2 linked regions of the Homo sapiens genome follow. The protein of the gene in region 2 interacts with the protein of the main gene of each other region in a pairwise test. Each region holds a gene or a part of one and is shown on either strand. Other genes may lie near its edges.

Region 1 (2,376 bases), on a different chromosome or scaffold from region 2:
ACCACTGAGGTTAGCGGAAAACAGGCTTCATATTTCTTTGCAAATAATCAAATTTCCTTTAAATAGACCTATCTAAAATCAGTTGATAATTTAACTTGAATTCCCAAGCCACTCAGGAAAATAATCCAATATTCACCTCCCACATCAACCCAAAGTCTGTTACTTTTCTGTCTTCTTATTTGACTCAAATACCTTTCCACTTGCTGGTTTACTCAAAAGATCTGTTTCATCTCCATGTTTTAGAGCCTGAGGATTTCATTTTTAGTTATCTATTCAAAACATTTTCTTCACTGTAAAATGATTGACAACTAGTAGTTTTTGTTACAATGGTAATTCTACTTTCCCAATCCATCACAATTGTCTTGGTTTTTATAGAAATATGACAGGTTGTCTTGAAATTCTGAAGGTCTCAAAATTATGCGAGAGTGAAAAATGTCCCTGAAAAAGTAAGCAACTTTTTAGATTGAAATAATCACATGAAGAAAAGAAACAAGACACAATTTGATATTTCAGTTTATTTTCCAAGTTTACAGTATAAAAAATGTGATGTGTAAAACATTTTACAGTTAATTGGGATGAGGGGGGGATTATACTGGAGGACCCAAAAAGGAACAAAATAACTTGGGTGACAGGTACACTATTCCATCAGAGACACTAACTCTGTTACTGACATCACAATGAGAAGAAGTTTCATAGCATAAACCTTATGAATGTAAGTAAATGGACCTGTACAGATGGTTGCTGGTAGTGTCATTCATTCATTTACATGCTTGCAAATGTGTCAAAAGAGCCCACTACCCAGTTTATGCAGGAACTCACTCAGGCCTTGTCATACACATATGGTGACCATGAGCAGAGGCTGGTTGGCAAAACTGCCCCTCCTGGTTACAATGTACAGTATTAACTAATCAGAAAGAACAAAAAAGGTCCCTGACCACATTTTTACACAAACCGTTATGACTCTGTCAGGTAAAGACAGGTGGTTTCATCTCTGAACTTTCTAAATTGGTGCTGGACTTGAAATCAGGAAATGTAAAGTCCTTCTAACCAAAGCAATTATCAAATAATCTCCTCTCAAATAAGACCTGCCTGGCCCAGGCCTCTCTGGTTCTCTCAGTAGCATTTCTGTTGAGGAAGGGGTCATCTATAATGTGAGTTAAATCACTGAGCCAGTATCTGCCCCCACCCTCATCTTTGCTGGCATCCTGCACTCTATGCAATAGTTATGGCCATAAATGACTGTTGGAAATCAAATTTGGCTAATCACGCCATAACTTAGGGGTCCCAGAGGAGTTTGCCATTTAATTAAAGCCTACCGTAAACTATTATAAAAATAAATTATTGCCATAGTTTAGATTTTTGTATGTTCCCTTTTTAAAGAATGATGATGAAAAGTAAGCGAATGTTCCATTACCTCTATAACTGAGAGGTGCTGGTAAATGAAAAACAACTGTTTCATCTTTCTACAAGGCCCCTAGAACGGCAATGATGTGCAACTGTCTAAATTCCCTACAACTTCAGTTGAACTAAACTTGTCACCTGCAGATCAGATGCCCAAGTCCCATCACTAACTCCCTGAGCAACAAGTCTCTGGTCCCCACAGATGAAGCTTTCTTAGGCTGAAGGCTTTTTAGAATTAAACACTCCTAAATGATGAGCAACTTCACAACAAAAGGCCATGTCTACAAGTGAAAGCTCAGATAAAGATAAGCACATACAAAACCAAACAACTGTACATTCAAATAATGCTTCCCAAATACCATTTCAGTGCCAAAAGAAGTGCCAAAGACACTTTTAAGATAAAAGCCTGGGGTTTGTCACCTTTGTCCCCAAAGCTTAAAGTAAGTGTCTTTCTTCCACTATGACAAGGACAAAACGCTGATGTTTGTAAGCTGAGAGAGACATAAATGGTAGAGTCTTGGTGCCATATTGAAAGAAACTTTTCACAGTGCTGCACCTGGCTTTAGGAATCTGCTCTTTTGTTGGAGAGACTAAAACAACCCACTAAAGAGGCTTATTTCATAGACAAAACAAATTGGGTTATCTACGTAGAAACGGAACAGGACCTGGGAAAACGGGACTTATAGAGCCCTGAAATTTAATTTTATTCTGAAGTTTTACATTTCTAATCCATCGCATCTTAATTCCTAATGAGATGTCACATGGAGAGATGTGAGCACCATCTTCCCTTTACTGTCTTCCATTGAAAGCAAACAGCAGGGCAGAAAACTATGGTTTATGCACAACTGAATCAAAACTTACTACATATGGGAACAGAGAAAAATGGTTTTCTGAGTCCTGTTTTACGTCTGCTCTGTCAAAAGTCTTGGGGGCAAGTGTGAGAAAGACGGTGGGATGCAAACTGCTTGCTGAGAA
Region 2 (3,422 bases):
TTGAAGCCTCCTGTTTTGACCTAACAGGACAAACTCGACGACTTAAAATGGATGCTGTTCCAACCATTTTTGATTTTTGTACCCATATAAAGTCTATGGTAGGTAATGTTACTCTCCTTTTGTTAAAACCATTTTTAGAACTCATTCCTTTTTGTTTATGCAGTTATTAACTGAAATTCATTTATAGTGATATGCCTCAAAAAAGTTGCAGACCTTCCTCTTGTACAGTAAAGGTACAGGCTAGAATCAGAGTTTGGGTCTCCTGACTCCAATATTCTTTCCCCAATCCAAATTGTTTTACTATATTGGAATTTTACATTATTACCCATTATTATTAATAATTGCACCATTGGTAAAACTGAAAAATCATATGAGTAATGAAACCTCCAGCATCACTGTGCTCTGATTTTAAAATGACATACAAATAACATGTGCAAAGTACTTTAAGAGCACACAGCCAGAATTAAACCAAAGAATGTAAGTTCAGAGGGAGGCAGGCATGACAGAAATCTTCAGAGAGCTTGGGCATTCAGGGTGGGCTTTTGAAGCCTTGGGAGTTTAAAATAGAGGAAAGGGAACTTGGCTTTGCACAGAATAATTACAGTTGCATAATGAGAACAAAAACGAGTGGGTTGAGGCGTGAGTAGGAAATGTTAGCAAGTGATATTTAAAGGAAAGAATGAAGAAAAAATGAAGCAAAAAAAAGTAAATTAAAAAAAACGAAAGAATAAAGGTATAAGATGAATGAATTAAAACAATGTTTTATCTAGTTAGGGAAGATCTGACCAGAGAGGAAAACCTAGCTGGGAAAGACAGGGTCACCAAGAGTAAGAAAGGGTAAAATGAACACAAATAGTTTAGCTTTGAAAGGGAGGACAAACATGTTTTCCTCTGAGGAAAAACTACTGTTTCTCTTGTTTGTAACTGTTAAACTTTTAAATGTATATGAGTTATTATCTGAATGGAGACGAGGTTGTGGTAAGCTAATTACCACTGATGTTAGAAAAGCTCCAGGAGGACAAGAACTTAGTCTTTTTCACACGTGAATCCTCAGCACCTCAAACAGTGCCTGGGACATAGTATATACTCAAATACTTACTGAATTTGAAATACACCTTATTTTTGACATTTTGATAATTTATTTATTTAATAAATACAACTAAACTTTCCATTATGCCAGAATCTAAGCTCAGTGCTAGAGATACAAAGATCAAAAAAGAGTTCCTGTCAATTCCCTAGGCAGAGGGACTAACTGTAGGTTTCATGAGGATAGGAACCACATCATCTTATTTGTTCAGTGTTGTGTCCCCAGGAATGCATAGTATGTGTTTCAATAAATGTTTAATGAATTAAAGACACAGACTTATGAGGATATGATATAATCTGGAAACTCCCAGTGGCTTAGTATTGCTGGAGTATAAATCAAGATGGTAAATTGCAGAATGGGGTGAGATCCTAAATTGTATAGTATGCCATCTAAAGATTTATTTTTCCTTTAGATAATAGATAGGCAAAGAATAATTTGGCCAGAATGGAAAAGTCAAATATTCTAGAAAAATTATTCTTATGGCAGAATGTGGATTAATGAGGATCAAAATGAAGTGGAGAGATCAATAAAGAATAATATAGTCAGAACAGATATGATACGGGCCCAGTGTAAGTAGTGACATTAAGAATGACAGTGTTCAGCCTTATTGTGGAACAGAGAAAGGAAAAAAAAGAATGACGGAGAGGAGAGGATTCATGGTAGGAATATTTAGTGGGTAGAATTAATAGGACTTGATGACCATTTGAATGAAAGAGATAAAAGCAAAAAAAGTCTCCTGATTTTGGCAAATGTTCCTAGCCAGATTTTAAATCCTTGAAGATATAACCATCAAAAATTAATAGGTAAATCTGTTTAGAAGCTTGGTACTTAAGAATACATTTCTACAGATCCTTCAGTTTTCATTAAATAGGACCCTGGGTCTAAAATATTTATCAAATTGAGAAAAGGGTATTTAATTAAAAGGGGATCAAATTAATATCATAAATAATATCTACATATATTGTAAATTGACCTTAGTAAATTGCAAAGGATCTTTAAAGTCTCTATAGAGTCATAGTCAATAATTTGGAAGAAACCTTGGACGTCCATTGTCTATTTCCAAATCAGTGTTTGAATCTCTCTGGATATGGGACAAAAAGAAATAGGTGACTAGAGTTAATTCAACCAGTTAAAAAACTTAATCTTGGATTACATGAGATGGCTGCTGCTGTTTCCTATTAAAGTTTTAAAATTGACTTTTAAAAGAGCAGTTTAAATACTGTTATCCAAAACTGGACACTATGTGCTTATTTGTGATATTTCATAATTTATGTTCAACCCTCTAATTTTATTCGGCTCAGAAACTCAAGTCAAGGAATCTTTTGAAGAAAAACAACAGTTGTTCTCCAGCTGGACCATCTAATTTAAAATCAAACATTAGTAGTCAGCAAGTACTACTTGAACACAGCTATGCCTTTAGGAATCCTATGGAGGCAAAAAAGAGGATCATTAAACTGGAAAAAGAAATAGCAAGCTTAAGAAGAAAAATGAAAACTTGCCTACAAAAGGAACGCAGAGCAACTCGAAGATGGATCAAAGCCACGTGTTTGGTAAAGAATTTAGAAGCAAATAGTGTATTACCTAAAGGTACATCAGAACACATGTTACCAACTGCCTTAAGCAGTCTTCCTTTGGAAGATTTTAAGATCCTTGAACAAGATCAACAAGATAAAACACTGCTAAGTCTAAATCTAAAACAGACCAAGAGTACCTTCATTTAAATTTAGCTTGCACAGAGCTTGATGCCTATCCTTCATTCTTTTCAGAAGTAAAGATAATTATGGCACTTATGCCAAAATTCATTATTTAATAAAGTTTTACTTGAAGTAACATTACTGAATTTGTGAAGACTTGATTACAAAAGAATAAAAAACTTCATATGGAAATTTTATTTGAAAATGAGTGGAAGTGCCTTACATTAGAATTACGGACTTAAAAATTTTGCTAATAAATTGTGTGTTTGAAAGGTGTTTTTTGTTTTTGTCTTTTTAAACTACTGTTAAAAGAACAGCTTATGATAAGTAATATGTTTAACTTAGAGAAGAATTTTTTCCTGTACCAAAGTTGGCATATTGCATTCTAAATAAGATGCTAAATAAGAGTTAACCAACATTCAACATGACCTTAAAACTGCTGGGTTTTGTATTAATTAAATTATAATTGGCACTGTGATTTGAAAAATTTATAGAAAAAAAGGTACAGGGCAAGTTTTTAAATTAAAACTTTCTATATTTTGTTTTACCAGTAAAAGTGAGCTTATCATGGCCTCTCTCATAAGAATGATTTTAAAATAGGTTGTAAAATATTTTGAAAATATTTGAATGTGAAGTACCAT

The links. Proteins that work in one complex are often made in the same cells at the same time.
Region 1: the proteins of THAP2 (region 2) and VANGL1 interact in a two-hybrid assay, tested with the Homo sapiens proteins (one large-scale study listed by BioGRID and IntAct).

Annotation. Positions count from the first base shown.
Region 1 is NC_000001.11:115,696,346-115,698,721, reverse strand, and holds the end of VANGL1 (vang-like protein 1), read right to left. Parts: 3' UTR 501-2,376; downstream 1-500.
Region 2 is NC_000012.12:71,674,301-71,677,722, forward strand, and holds part of THAP2 (THAP domain-containing protein 2), read left to right. Parts: coding exon 1-98; intron 99-2,388; coding exon 2,389-2,808; 3' UTR 2,809-3,422.